Regions from separate parts of the Homo sapiens genome. Here region 2 is linked to region 1. The links come from fine-mapping of genetic effects on gene expression. Tissue or cell type: caudate. Region 1 holds a variant in brackets; the other region holds the start of a gene. All regions are shown on one strand. Distances are between the middles of the regions.

Evidence for each region. PIP is the estimated chance that this variant, and not a neighbour inherited with it, causes the effect.
Region 2: CPVL starts here. The variant in region 1 is fine-mapped to the expression of CPVL in caudate (GTEx, PIP 0.99).

The regions. Positions count from the first base shown.
Region 1 is chr7:29,166,672-29,174,779 of GRCh38, forward strand. It overlaps a transcript of CPVL not described here and a transcript of CHN2 not described here. Among named protein-coding and RNA genes, the nearest start is that of CHN2, 24 kb to the right of the region's middle. The variant C/T (reference allele first, on the strand shown) is at 3,065.
Region 2 is chr7:29,141,721-29,149,818 of GRCh38, forward strand. It overlaps CPVL (carboxypeptidase vitellogenic like), which reads right to left and starts at 4,817. Exons shown (of 13, transcript NM_031311.5): 1 at 4,709-4,817. It also overlaps a transcript of CHN2 not described here.

The sequences.
Region 1 (8,108 bases):
TTATACTTTTAGTATCTACAACTGTATTGGTATCCTCTCTCTCATTTCTATAATTAATAATTTGTATCATTTCTATTTTTTTCTTGATGAATCCAGCTAAAGGTTTATCACTCACTGATCTCAAAAAACCAGTTTTTTATTCCAATGATATTCTCTATTTTTTGTTTTTCTATTTCCTGTACCTTCTTGAACATTTGAAACATATTTATAATAGTTCTTTTAATGTCCTTGACTACTAGTTCTACTATCTGTGTCATTTTTGTTCTGTTTCCATTGACTGATTTTTCTCCACAATATAAGATATATTTCTATGCTTTTTTGCATGCATAGAGTACATATACTGTATATGTACAAGTTAAAGAATAATAACAAAGTGAACAATGTTTACAACTCCAAACAACTTGACGAAAAGAATATTATCAATACCTTAAATCTGTCCCTGGTAACATCCCTACCTTGATACACTCAAAGTGTACTCAAAGGTACAATATCTTGAATTTTGTGTTAAACTAACTTTTAATTATTTATTTTTGCTTAAGTATGTAATCCTAAAATAATATATTAATTTTAACTTTTTTAGACCTTTGTCAAATACAATAATTCTAGGCTTACTTTTTTCATTCAATATGTTTCTGAAATTCAACCAGATGAACATGTATCTGTTCATTCATATTCTATCCTAAATGGTATTTCATTAAATGAATATTCAAAAAATTATCCACTATCTGCGGACATGAGAGCTATTTCCAGTTTTTCTTTTTGCTTGTTTGATTCGCTGGTACAAACAGTGCTTCTATGACCATATTTGAATATGTCTTTGGTGCACATATGCAAAACTATTTCTAAAGTATGTATCTTAGAGTGGTATTGCTGAGTCGAAGACTATATGAATTTTCAACTTTGCTAAATAACACTAAATTGTTTTTTAAAGTAGTGGTACCAATTTACTCTTCAGTCAAAAGTGTGTAAGTGTTTTTATTGCTCTACATCTTCACCAATATTTGGTTTTGTCAGACTATATAGTTTTGCCAATCTGATAGAAAAAAACTGGCATCTGTGAAAGTCATTTGTTTTCCCTAAACATTTCCAGTTTTCTCTGCTTCCAAGCACATAGTAGAAGGAATTGCACTTCCTAAATCCTTGTTATGAGTGAGTTTGACTTGTAATGAATTGTGAAGGAATGTCTGCCAGCTCCTGGCTGGAGCAATTACTTACTGATGCAAAAACCCCCATGCTTTCCTTCCCTCTGACAAGGAGGCCTACAACATCGGAGGTAACTGTTGTGTGACCCTGGGAACATGAGTGATCATAATGAACAGATGACTGACCACAGTTCCCAGATGACCTAAACTGGACATTTGTGTGAGTGAGAAGTAAAATTTTGTTGGTATGATTCTTGGGTGTTGGTGGCAACAATATTACCTAGCATATCATAACATACAGAATATCTCATTGTGGTTTTAATTTGCTTTTTCCTGCTTACTAATGAGACTGCACATCTTCTGACGTTTGGTCTGGGCATTTTTTTATTTCATAAAATGTCGGTTTATTTGTTTGTTTAAACCATCTTTCAATGGGTTTCTTTGTCTTTCTCTTATTGATTTCTAGAAGTTCTTTAGACATTTTGGATTCTCATCTTGTGTCAGCTTTGTTTCAATTCCATTACACAATTTTTGGTTTTTCTTTTAATGGTTCTTAAATAAAACTTTTTATCTTAGAAAATTTCAAGCATACAAAATAGAATATTCTAATAAGCCTCCATGTAGCCATACCCAGCTTCTATAATTATGGACTCATAGTCAATCTTTTTTGCATCTGTAATCTCTACCCATTCCTCCCACCCCTGGATTATTTTGAAGAAAATGCCAGACATCCTATAGTTTCATCTGTGTATCTCTAAAGGTAAGAACTCTTTGCAATTTGGAGGTCCAGTGTTATGTGAGGGTCTCTGTTCCAATCCCCCAACCTGTATAGGCTGAAAGCTTTCCCTCTTCCCCCTCAAACCTCAGCTGTAGGCTTCCAGGGAGAGTTTGTGTCTCAGCTAATCAGATGGCTAAACACACTTAAAAACTATTTTTCCATTATATTATGCTAAAAGCACTAGAAGTAATTTAGTTTAGCATGTATTCATGTTGTTTAGACATGTACTACTAAGTATGTATTATGTGTGCATGATTTTTACATATGCGTGTTTACCACTATCCATTTAATCTATAAGCTTCTAAGAGGTATGAACTATTTCTATTCGCCATGTTTTAAGTAATACCCAGCCCAATGTGATTCAAAAGTAAATGTATAATAAATTCTATTTGATGAAAATGGAAGTCCTGGTTATTAGAATATCATGAGGAAAATGGACTCAAATTGTGGTTTGATTTTCATAGGCAATTCTAATGGATATATAAGAAATTTATCTCCCATAGAATAAAACATGGAATTTTCCCCATTTTATTCATTTCAGTTTTCTTTCTTTCATACCTATTCTAGGTGGTCTATGCATTGTATATTCAGTACTGTTTTTGAAAGGCATGTTACTCAAAATACATGGTTGTACTACGAATAAATGCACTATGCTGATATTACCATTGTAGAAGATTCTGGGAAGAACATTCTATTATTCAATCCCTTAAAATATATCATCCTATTGAGTTGCTTCTTCTAAGGCATTCATGTACAGTGTGCTCTTTTAGAGTTTAACAATTCCATTTTCATACCCCTCTAAACACACCATTTTAATTATTTTTAAAAACTTACCATTAGTGATTTGTCCTATTTTGTTTTTATATAAATGTTTATATACAATAATGTTATGTTAAAAATAAATACAACTGTTTTGTTATTGTTATATTATCTTTCACTTAAACAAGAGGAAAGGGAGATTAAGTAGCTGACGGTGTACTGAAGAGTAACTGAAAAGACCAAAACAGGACCATTGGCTTTTTCTACCTATTCTTCTTTGGCTTCTGCCTTTTCATGTCCTATGTATGGCTGCCATCATGTGCTGCTCTGTCTTTTCTTCTCAGGGCCTGCTTGACACATTTGATCCAGAAAAGCTTCTTCCTCC[C/T]TTCTGACCACTGTTTGCTCAGTCAGAGCTGGTGTGCCTATAGACCTTCACATCCTTATTCCATGGCTACCTGGCAGGGATAAGATGTATATATATATATACACACATATATATAAGTATATATACGTGTGTGTGTGTGTGTGTGTATATATATATGTATATACAGGTTGCTGCTCTGTTGCTCAGGCTGGGGTGCAGTGGCGCCATCATAGCTCATTGCAGCCTTGAACCCCTGGGCTCAAGTGATCCTCCTGCCTCTGCCTCCTAAAGCACTGGAGTTACAGGTGTGAGTACCATGCCCAGCTGTGGTGTCCTTTTGATCCTTGTATTTGGCCTTCTTGACTAATCCAGTGCTCCCAGACTTCTAGCAGAAGCCCATTCTCTGGAGGTAAACTGACAGGAATCCTATGGGGTGGAGGGGGATTCCCTGAGCTCTTAAACATGGTCCTAAGGTGCTTCCTTGGCTACTTTATGTTTAACAATAGATTGCTGGTGATACTGATGAAACTCTTCTTTTGTTTTAATATCTGACAAATTTCTTGCTAATCTTAATTACTAGAGCAACTCTAGGGAACAGTGAATCTTCAAACACAAGATTTTAATATGCTTTCCTTCATGTCAGTGTTCCTTTTATGCATACCTCTAGTAAAACATTGTTCCATTTGATGCCAAAGATTTGCCCTTTCTTTAATTAATTTTGAATACTGCACATGTTAGATTTTCCCCCATTATTCATATTTTCTCCAATTGTTCATCTGGGGACGAATTTAAGTAATTTGTACATGTCCTTAGTTTAAAATGGGTTTTGTACATTCACTGAATATTTTGAAGAAAAATCAACCATTACATGACAAATGTATGTCTTCTAGAATTTTTATTTCTAAACTTCATGGAACACTTCTGTGTGACTTTCTGTAATATCTAATCTCAGGCAAAAATGACTTACTGTATTAGTCTGTTTTCACACTGCTGATAAAGACGTACTCGCGACTGGGCAATTTACAAAAGAAAGAGGTTTAATTGGACTTATAGTTCCATATGGCTGGTGGGGGGGCCTCACAATCATGGCGGAAGGCGAGGAGGAGCAAGTCACATCTTATGTGGATGGCTGCAGGTAAAGAGAGAGCTTGTGCAGGAAAACTTCCCCTTATAGCAACTATCAGATCTCGTGAGACTTACTCACTATCACAAGAAAAACATGGGAAAGACCTGCCCCCATGCTTCAATTACCTCCCACGGGGTCCCTCCCACAACATGTCGGAATTCAAGATGAGATTAGTGTGGGGACACAGCCAAACCATATCACTTACACTTCTCTATGACTCAGCTGATTTATTAAAAAACGACTTTATGAGATGTGTCAATTGAGATGGAAGGTGCTGGACATAATGAACTGCCGGTTTCCCCCCAGTTCTGACTCTTGCCTGCAGAGCCCTAACATTGCTTACATACGCACTGCTCTTTCACATGAAGGAACAGCGCAGACATCACCTAATACGCGTCCTACTGTATTCTTTCTGCCACATTCCCAGAAACCCCAAAGCTCTTTGGAACACCCAGGGGATTTCACAGGTCTATAAAGAAGAACAACCTGTAAACTGGGCTTGGTGATTCTGTGGGGATACAAACCAACATAATACATATGTAATGGAATAAACAACGGCATTAGCCAGTTCAGAGTCTTCAAGCTGAACTTGTTAGAAGGAGCGCCACACCTCAAGTAAACTAATAGGGTGGGGATCCCAGACGGAGAGGATTCTACCCAGAATCCTCCTCAATTCAGCCCCGAGCTTTCTTTGAAGGGCTTTCTTTGTACAGAGTTTAAGGTCAGAGACTTTTAACGTGGACCGGAAAGACAAACTCTAATACCTTAAGGGGCACTATTAAATCAAATTCCACAAACTAAATACTTGTCCGGAGATGAACAATTCAGAGTATAGCAGTTGTTGCAGGCTAAATCCAAGCATATGACATAATTTAGAAATCTACCAGTGTGTCTCCAGAGAATGCATTTTCATTTTTCCATAATATAATACATGCCTATCAAATCCATCTAACATTATTGAATCCATCACTTTTTAAGAAATGAAGTTGTTGTAGCTGAAGCTTTCAAGCATGCCGTCACATATAGTTCTTACAAATGGACTTACGAACTGATTTGGAGGGAAGCCCCCAATTCCCATATGTTTGACTTTAAAGAACAATCCAGCTGTATCTGAAGTAATTGTCCTCCTCAACAGAGTGCACAATGCAGGGTGCAGTGGGTGGTACACAGGAGAAAAAACTCATGGAATGGTGGAGACAGCCCCCTAGTCAGCCAGATGGGCCAAATCAGATGTAGGGTCAGCAGTATCACGTTTATACGCTTGGATTACATTGCCACCTAGAAGGAACCCAGGGAGTACCTAGGTTTCCATATATGGGGGGATTCCTGCAATGATTCAGTCCTTTAATGGGGCATCTTACTGTAAATCATTAAAACAGCACCACCTACTCTCCAGCATCCGGCCCACTGAGTTCTTGAAAGCATGGTTGCTGTGGGCATCACAGCTGATTTCTGTTAGTTGACTGGTCTCATCCAGTTGACCAACATTCTGCTTCAGGAACATTGTGACTTCTACACCTAGGCTCACCCTTGGTTATGATAGCATCAGTGTCTAAAGTTTTCTTAATATGCTGTAACAATAATCTCTGTCTCATCTATCATCATATTGCCACCCATTTATCATCCAAAAAAAATTATTAAAAATAACCAAGCCTTCAGATTCAGGAAAACCATTGGAATCAATTTGATTTCCCTTGCAGTTGGGAAATGAATTTTAAATTATTCATGTTAACACCCTCCAGATAAATTGAATTTTTAGAATATTTAAGAAAAGCTTAGTAAAGTCCATCTTTGACATTAACAGATTCCTTTTTTTAAATATTAATTTCATATTAACCATTGCTTTTTGACATACAGTCATCTGACCAACGATTTCAAGAATCATTAATGTTAATTGGGAAAGAAGTAAAACCTTAACATTTTAATATTATAAAACTTTTTTTTTCAACTTCTGTTTCCAGCTGTATGACTCACTAGATATCTGGAGAAGCTTTTCTGCCACTTAAAAATGCTGGATAAGGCCGAGTGTGGTAGCTCACCAGCGTTTTGGGAGGCCGAGGTGGGTGGATCACCTGAGGTTAGGAGTTTGAGACCAGCGTGGCCAGTATGGCAAAAACCTGTTTCTACTAAAAATACAAAAATTAGCTGGGCATGGTGGTGGGTGCCTGTAATCCCAGCCACTCAGGAGCCTGGGGAAGGAGAATCGCTTGAACCCAGGAGGCAGAGGTTGCAGTGAGCTGAGATTGCGCCAATGTACTCCAGCCTGGGTGACAGAGCAAGACTCTGTATCAAAAAAAAAAAAAAAAAGCTGGATGAGATAGTTTTTAAAAAAACATTTTTAAAAATGCACACCTAAGCTTATAGGAAAGTCAAGGAAATCTTCTAAGGCCAGAAAGCTAAGCAGGAACCCAGAGGAAAAAAAGCCCTGTAGCTGGCATTGCCCTGAATGCATCTGCCAGGTGCTGGTAGCCTCGAGTGGGGGCCTAACTTTCTGCAGCCATATAATTTATCCTCCAGCCCACAGTGATTATGAAGTGAAAGGTGGTGCTATTAATAATACATGAGGATTTCTGCTCCTGCTTGGAATATAGAAAGCTACGAGAGAATGTCACCCCCATCCTAACAACAAGAAAATGAGGAACAGTGTACAATATTATAACTTTCTTTCCTTAAACTCATCAGAGACTTGAGGTCACAAGGCAACCAGGAAAGTAAACTTCAAAGGATAAAAAGCATCTCTAATGAGAGGCAGGATATGAAATTGTTGCACCTTTGGCAGAGTATGGGAGGAAGGAGGGGGTTGTTGCCATGGAGTGAGTAAGAAGAAATATTTTTTTAAAAATAATGAATTCCTTACTTTGGCAGGCTGAGGCGGGCAGATCACTTGAGGTCAGGTGCCCGGCCTGTCCAACATGGTGAAACCCTGTCTCTACCAAAAAAAAAAAAAAAAATTAGTCGAGTGTGGTGGTTCATGCCTGTAATCCCATGTAATTCCATCTTACTTGGGGGGCTGAGGCACTAGAATTACTTGGACCTGGGAGGTGGAGGCTGCAGTGAGCTGAGATCACACCACTGCACTCCAGCCTGGGTGACAGAGGGAGACTGACTCAAAAAAAAAAAAAAGAATTTCTAAAGACTGAGTATGCACTCATATCTCATATTAATTTAGAATAATTGAGAGGCCCAGACACAAGCGGAGTTCACACACACTCCCAAGCTTCTCTTCATAGTCTCCATGGGGAAGAGGGGGTGCTCTTGAGGAAGACTAGGGCAGGGCAAAAGGCTGGAGAGACCCCCCCGTTTGGTGGCACAGGATGCAGGAGGAGGTGGCTGCCCCCACACCTTGATGCTCCTCTCATGGGAGCAAAAGCCTTAATTAAGCTGTCAGGAAGAAGCAGCAAGCCCTTGAGAAGCAAAGCCCTCTGCCTCTGGAGGGGGGCCAGCAATCCCGTCTTTCCATATTTTGGTATGCAGGCACATATCTGCTTCTGGGGAAAGGACAGAAGCAAAAGTCATCAGTCCCTGAGGAGAGACAGTAAAGCTTTTCGAGGCCTGGAGGCTACACCAGTACATAGCCAAGGTCTGCTTCTCCCCCAAGAGGGACAGGAACCTGTCCAGACAAGGGACAGGTTGCTCAGCTGATTAGCCATGGGGGCACAAAGCAGGATGGAACATGGTAGAGTGGATTTGGAAGGGGCAGAAAGAAAATACCCAACACAATGATTAAACAATTTTGAGAGTCCAGGTGCAGTGACTCACGCCTGTAATCCAGCACTTTGGGAGGCCGACTTGGGCGGATCACCTGAGGTCAGGAGTTCGAGATCAGCCTGGCCAACATGGTGAAACCCCATCTATGCTAAAGATACAAAATTAGCTGGGCACGGTGGCACACACCTGTAATCCCAGCTACTTGGGAGGCTGAGGCAGAAGCATTGCTTG
Region 2 (8,098 bases), 25 kb before region 1:
CCTGGCCAACGTGGTAAAACCCTGTCTCTACTAAACATATAAAAATTAGCCAGGCGTGGGGGTACACGCCTGTAGTCCCAGCTACTCAGGAGGCTGAGGCAGGAGAATCACTTGAACCCAGGAGGCAGAGGTTGCAGTGAGCTGAGATTGTGCCACCGCACTCCAGCCTAGGCAACAGAGTGAGACACCATCTCAAAAAAAAAAAAAGTAGCTGTTGCCTTGTGAAAAGATAGACAAGTTCATTAAATTACCTGGCTTCTGATCTGCAAGTGGGTTACCTGGAAAAAGCGTTGTATGCTCTAAAAGTCCTAGATAAAAAAATTTATTTAACTTTCTCTTCTTCTTTCCTCTGCCTCACCTTACCCCCTGAACTTCCCAGAATGGGAAAAGGAAAGACTTACTTCACTTTACTAGTGCAGATATGGTCTTTTAGTTAGGAACTGTGGTCAATTATTAATGAGAACTGCAGCTATAGTAACACTGTAGATAAACAGGCATTAAAATACTAACAGATCATTGAACACCTGTATTTATTTTTTGCTCCAAGGACTCCATATATTCAGATTTTCTTCAAGATCTTATCCTTTTTTCTCTTTCCGTACATTCCCATTCAACCACCCCTTGAGTATTAATCACTAGTCCAAATGTTTGTTCAGTCCTGACATTGCTATTGGGCATTTCAGGACAGTATCACCACTGTCAGCTGTCACCTCCAAAAGGATAACCAATCAGCCCCTCAAACCCACTGACTCTATAACAGGACGTCATCATTCTCCTCAAACTTCCTCCTTCTATGACTTCCAGATACTTTTTTTTTTTTTTTTGAGACACAGTCTTGCTCTGTTGCCCAGGCTGGAGTGTAGTGGTGCAATCTCGGTTCACTGGAGCCTCTGCTGCCGGGTTGCAGCGATTCTCCCGCCTCAGCCTCCTGAGTAGTTGGGATTACAGGCATGCACCACCACGCCTGGTTAATTTTTGTATTTTTAGTAGACACAGGGTTTCACCATGTTGGCCAGGCTGGTCTCAAACTCCTGACCTCAGGTGATCTGCCCGCCTCAGCCTCCCAAAGTGCTGGGATTACAAGCATGAGCCACCATGCCCAGCGACTTCCAGATTCTTAATGATGCTCCCTTATAATTGCAGATGCCTGAGTTCTAAAACCAGAAGTCCTCAAGTCAAATCTGTCACCAAGTGCTATTCTACTTCCTTTTTTCTCCATTCTATCCACAGTTCAACCCTTACTTGCCCCGAGACATTTACAAAGCTTCCTAACACATCTCTCAGACTTCCGGTCCTTTTCCCTCCAATTTAGCCTAACACTGATGCTTCAGTGAGCTTTCTAAAACACAAGGCACTCCATTCCTCCCATGCCTTCAATGGCTCCCACCTGCAACCAGGAAAAAGTATAAACTTTCTACGATGAAATTTAATGTCCTCCATGATACAACTTCAACATAACTTTTCAAACCAAAGTTACATGATTCCTTCACAAACTCTTAGCCTATGCTCCGCCAAATCAAAACTCTCCTTGTTCCCTAACCCTACCCTGCCTTTTATGTTTTTACAGCTTTGCTGAGCAAACCTCCAGGCAAACAGTAGGAACTAATCAATGCCAGTTGATTAATCAATTGAAATCAATACCCTGGCTTCTAATCAATAATAGAATCTAGGTAGATTCTAGATTGCAAAATTCTTTTGACTTTTCTGAAAGTTTAAACCTTTTCATAATCAAACACTGGGAAAAAATTAGTTAAATGAATAAATAAATGAGAAAATGAATCGCTTGGGACCTGGGTTACATTCTCTCCCAAGAATCATACAGTACAAAAAGATATGTGGCACTATCTTTTTGAAAGAGGGGTAATGGGATACAGAGTCCCAAAAAGGAAAGGAGGAAGAGCTTACCTTTAGGGTTCAAAGTAAATATTTTGGCCTGTAAACAATTCTAAGCAATTTAAAGACAACCAATAACTAGAATCAGACTAGAGAGAAAAAGGTAGGAGGTAAGTTCCAACTATATTGGAAAGATAAGCTGCTAAGAATTTGCTTTTTCAGGCTCCAAGATCTAAGGACACAGTCCTTCCCCCTCTTTCACTACCACCACCCTGTCCTGCACCCCAGGGTCTGAGTTAAAGCAATGAAAGCATGTGATTTCATGTTCAAGGTTATACCTCTAATATCTCTTAAGGGAGAGCAATCTCAATACCCTGGTTTCAGTTCAGATACGCTGTAACAGCTGTCTTGTGAACTGTCTATTAAGGCTTACATCTTTGAGCTTGCAAATATAGTATAAAAGTTCAAACTCCACTACTGTTTTTACCAGGAAAGTACAGTTCTTAGCTTTTTGCCCAGCTTACCTCTCTCACAAGTCAATATAGACGTTAATGAGTCATTGTTCTAGAGGTATCTTTCTAATTCTGAGAAGCTTGCCTACTTCTTTTAAATGTTCTTAGTTCAGTCAATGAAAATCTCACATTATAAAGCCATCGGAAATGGTAAACTAAAACAATCATGTTTGCTCTTTAGTGAACCATACTTCCTATTAAGAAGGGGTCACTGGCCAGGCACAGTGGCTCATGCCTGTAATCCCAGCACTTTGGAAGGCCGAGGTGGGAGGATCACTTGAGGTCAGGAGTTCGAGACCAGCCTGGGCAACATGGCAAAACCCCATCTCTACCAAAGATACAAAAATTAGCCGGGCATGGTGGTGTACACCTGTAATTCCAGCTACTCAGGAGGCTGAGGCACAAGAATCCCTTGAACCCGGGAGATGGAGGTTGCAGTGAGCAGAGATGGTGCCACTCCAGCTTGGGTGACAAAGTGAGACTCTTGTCTCAAAAAAAGAAAGAATGGGTCATTACTATTTACCTTGAGTATTTGGGTGCTAATAAACAGATATCTGATGATACCTGGGGCAAGAACTGAGTTCCTCCCCTCTCATTGCCTTAGTTCTGTGCATCCCAGGGTAGTATTCAACACTCAGTGTTTCCTCTGACAAACTAGATGCTTCCCAAAACAAAAACAAACTCATTTTTAGAATTCTGTTATATTATTTGCTTCTTGTTTTTATTTTTTGTGGGGAGTGAACTGGTAAACCCAGTGGACTTTCTTAACACTCTTCTAAGTCATTCAAACTGTCAGTCAAAACCCACCTATTTCTCAGGCTAGTAGAATCCCACTATAAAGTGATTTATAAACTGGATTTATATAAATTGGGGGATCAATTGCCCCTCCCAAACAATCATCTCCTATAAAAGATTAATAAAACAACATCTGGTTAAGAACACTGACACTACATTATAAAGGGTTGCCCCTGTACTTAGACTAGCATGAGGTACACATCTAGAATGCCCAGTTAGCCAAACGGTCTTGACGACCATGCAGACTTTCATATGCCAACAAAGCCGGTGCAGTGTACTTTTCCAAAAGTGCTCCAATTCTCCTTTTGGACAACTTTCTTAAACGTTATTTACCAAGCTAATAAAATGTATTCTCAATGGACTTTTTACTCTGCTTACATCTTTGTTCTTACTCATCCCAAAGCAAAGAATGGAAAAAAAATGAGTTGTACATTTAGCCGGGGAAGGGAAAGGCAAGTACTGAGGGGCTCCTTTTTCATTTACTGATGCCAAAACTGAGGCTGTGGAAGATAAGTTACGTCCCTGATGTCATCCAAGTAGTGGATACCGGAACCAGGAATTGCACAGAATTGTCCAGCTCCAAAACCCAAGCACCTTGCTTGGGACCCACTGGGGTTGCAGTGAAGGTGGGGGGCTCAGAGGTGACTGCACACGGGTCATGCATAGCCACAGTCATTATATGGCCAGAGTTTTAAACATTATTTTGTTCTGTCTTCACCATAGACTTCATCATCAATCATAACTGATAAGGAAAATTACACTTAGCTGAAAAGCCAAGTCCCGTGCTAGGGAGGCATTTTCTGTATGTTATTTCTATTTCCAATAAAACAATTCTTTAAAAAGAAAAACTTATTATCTCCATCTTTCAGATGGAAAGACTGAGGTTTAGTAGGCTTAAATAATTTGCCCGAGGTCACTCACTAGCCAAGGCCAGAACTGGGATTTAAATCCACAAATATTCCAAAGTCCTTTTGTTTCTGTATCACTTCACAGGGAGCTGCTTCCACCTGTCTCCTGTGCCCTTGGTTTCTGCTAATCCTACATTCCAAGAATAAAAGTCTTCCTATGCGTTCCTAGGCAGAAGCCAAGTTTCCCTGCTTTGGGCACGTTCAAAATAGAAGGTATTTTCCGCTTCTCTTGCTTCTGAGCACCCACGAAATCAACACATCCCCAAAACACGCGTTGAGGGAGTAAGGGAAAGTGTCCTGCACCCGCCACCCTCCCGCGCTAAGAGCGGCAGAGGACCCCACAGCTTCGTACTTCCCCGGAGGAGCTCCTGGAGTAGGAGACGGCTTCTAGCCTGGAAGAACCCCGGGTGCGACAGTTGTGCCAGGAAACTTCAAGAGTATTCCCTCGGCTGGGCGCACGCAGTACATCCCCAATGCTCCAATTTGAACTTTGACTCGGCCACGACCACCCCACTCCAGTCTCACTCTACGGTGCTTTCTCCCCTGTTGGTGCTGAGGGCTTTTGAGACTACCTGCCCCGCGCTCCCTAAGTCCGAGGGACCGAGGCGAGGACCTGTCCCGCTGAGCTGGCACGACCCACGCAGGGCAGGCGGCACTTACGCGGCGCAGTCGGTGCTCCTCCCTGAGCCGCGGCGCGCAAGGACCCCAGCCGGTTGTCCTTGCAGCGCTTCCCAAATCAGGCAGAAGTGAGGCAGCCCCACCCAGTCACGAGGACCCTGCAGAACTCGAGCCTTTAAGCGCTCCTCTAGGCTCACATGACCCAGACCCACAGGGCAAAAAGTGCGTCGTCGTGTCCCAACCTCCTGGTCCCAGAAACCTGGCCGCATCAAGTCAGCGCTTCCCATGCTGGAAGAAGCAAGCAGCCCCAGGGTGGAATCTTAAAAATTAATGAAGAGCATCGGCGGGGTGCCATTCAGGTTGGTTTGTCCCTTTGTTTTATTTTGATTTTGTCTCCCAGTTTTTAAAAGCTGCTATCTTAAAATTTCAACCCTGTATTTTGAAATTATTTCTGCACTCTAGGACTTACTTGCAAGCCCAGGATTTACATTTGGAAAGCGAGTGGTGTTTGATTCCCACTGTTTAAAAAGGCAACACACGTTCGCTGATGGTCTACATTCCAGCTGCACTAGCAGTAAGCTCGCACCAAGTGCCACTGTCCTGCCAAGCACTCTCCTGAATCACTGCGCTGGAGTCTCAGAGCCACCTGATGTGTTCTGTACCATTATACCCATTTTGCAATTGGGGGACACAAACTAAGTGAGGTTAAGTAACCCATCCAGGGTCACATTGCTTGTAAGTGACCTGAGTGTATATTATTAGCCACCACCAGGTGCTGGGCATCGAGCCAGACAGTACGGGAGCAAGAACTAAAAAAGGCAAGGAGGTTGCAATGGCAAGTAGATAACACAAAATAAAGGAGGGTCATCATTATCAGCAACAGCAGCGTCAACTGCCAGACAGGTGGGAGAGGCCACGGGGAATCTTCTGCACTGTCCCGGGCCAACCTCCATCTCCTCACAGCTAGCTGCAGGAGTGAGCCCAGGGAAACCCGCAGTAGAGCAGCCCAGCCAACCCGACAGTCAGGGGGAAAAATTGTTTTAAGCCACTTTCAGTTTCGCGTAGTTTGTTATGCAACTAAGGCTAACTAAAGCACTAGTTTTACGAGCTGGAACAAACTAATGTCACTGAATATCTGTTTTCTCCTAAGTACCTACTTTATTGGGTTGTTGTGAGGACTCACTGAAAAACTATGTGTAAATCACCCAGCACAAAGTATGTGCTCAGTGACTGCAGTCATTCTTTGCTATCATACCTTCCATATGGAAGTACTTCCTACCCACCTAGCTCTTTAAGGAGAAAAATCTGTTTGTGGGAAAATAATTCTTTTAAGGCCAAAATCAGCCCACCTTTAATATATGCAGGACCCAGGGCAAAAGTACAAACAGAGATCTGTAGGCCAGATACCTAAATATTTAAAAGTTATAAACAAAGTTAACAAATGATTAAGTACAATAAGTTCTACCTTCCTACCTAGACAAATATACCTTGGGAATTGACATGAAAGGCCAGATTGAAACTTTGGATGATCTGCACTTAAATATGATGGTGCAGGGAGAGGCGATTTCCAGTTCCTGGTTTGCAGCCACCTCCTCTCTTCCCACAGGGCTCTAGTCCATTGGTGGAAGCTCGGTCAAGCTTCCCAGAAGCAGCTGTCCCCCAGCCACCTCTTGGGCACAAGAGTATGAACACCAGAGTCAGCAATGTTCGCCCATGGGAGTACAGACATTAGCAGATAACACTGCTGCTGGCGTGCAGACCCTTGAAGCAGGCTCAGTGCCATTTGGGGAGGGAATTTGGAATTTGCCTTCTAAAGTGTGGGCCCTGGACAAGGGCTCCTTGGGTCTAAGTATAAGGACAACTACTGGCCAAAGAATACCTGTGCCCACGTGGAACCACTTAAAAACTAAACTGAATTTTACAGTAAACACAGGAGGAGCCATGCTGTAAGCATATTTATTCAAAAACAGGGTGTCCCAAAAGTCTTCCTGCAGTTTTAGTAACCTCAAGGCTATAAATGCTGCAACTTATAAGAACACCATTTGAAAGTTAATTTAACACTATTTATCTCTGTGAATGTTGAATAACACGTTTTAACTTTAATTTTTGTTTCAGTTCCCCTGAGTGAAATATGGCATACATTAACCAGAAGAGAAAATTACATTTATTAAAATAATTAAAACAGAGTCAAAAGAAGTAAACGTTCAAATGAGTTTTGTAAGTTTGTAGCATTTCGACTTAAGAAGTTATTAAAGCTTAAAACTGCACTGACCTTTTTGGGGTACCCTGTATTCGGATTTGTCGTGTGTCAGGTTCTGTGCTAGACACTTGATTAAAAAGAAAAAACAAGAAAAAAGATAGTCTTCTTTAGGGAACTTGAAGTTTAGTTGTGGGGAAGGGATGAAGGGGACACACAGATTGATCCCATCATACAATATAAGAGCTGTAATTGGGGCTGATAAAGTGTGTGTGTGGGGGAACAGAGGACAGGGACCAAATGACTCTGCCCGAAGAGCCAGGGGAATCCTGTCAGAGGAGGTGACTTGAAGCTAGACATTAAAAAATGAATAGCCACTGAGGGGAAAGGTGGCAGCACAGGCAATGAGCAGGCCACCTGCACTCAGGTTGATGCTGTGCTCTTGGACAGATGGACTGTGCGACACCAGGCGTGTTCAGGGTGGGTCGGGGGTTAACTAATACTGAGGTTAGAAAATTAGACTGGAGCCAGCTTGGAAAGGGCAAGAATGCTGAGCTCTAGAGACTGATGTTGTTCAAAATTAGTAGATTGGGAAGTCTGTTTCCCTTTTTTTTTTTTTTTTTTTTTGAGACAGAGTCTTACTGTGCCGCCCAGGCTGGACTGCAATGTCGCAATCTCAGCTCACTGCAACCTCCACCTCCCGGGTTCAAGCGATTCCCTGCTTCAGCCCCCCGAGTAAGCTGGGACTACAAGCACCCGCCACCACAGCCAGCTAATTTTTTGTATTTGTAGTAGACACGGGGTTTCACCATATTGGCCAGGCTGGTCTCGAACTCCTGACCGCAAGTTATCCACCTGCCTTGGCCTCCCAAAGTGCTGGGATTACAGGTGTAAGCCACCGTGCCCAGCCTGGAAATCCATTTTCTTAATGAAAGAGAATAAAATAGAACAAAATAGTACAGAACAGAATAGAACCATAGGACAGGAGTATGTGCTTTCCAGGGAGGTTGTAACTGAGCAGCTATTAACAGTAGAAATTTATTGTCTCATAGTTCTGGAGGCTACAAGTCTGAAATTAAAGTGCCAGCAGGGCCAGGTTCCCTCTGAAACCTGGAGGGGAAGGATCCTTCCTCGCTGCTTCTAGGTTCTGGTAGCCCCAGGTGTTCCTTGGCTTGTGGCAGCATCAACCCAATCTCTGCTTCAGCCTTCCAGGGCTTTCTCTCTGTGTCTTTTCA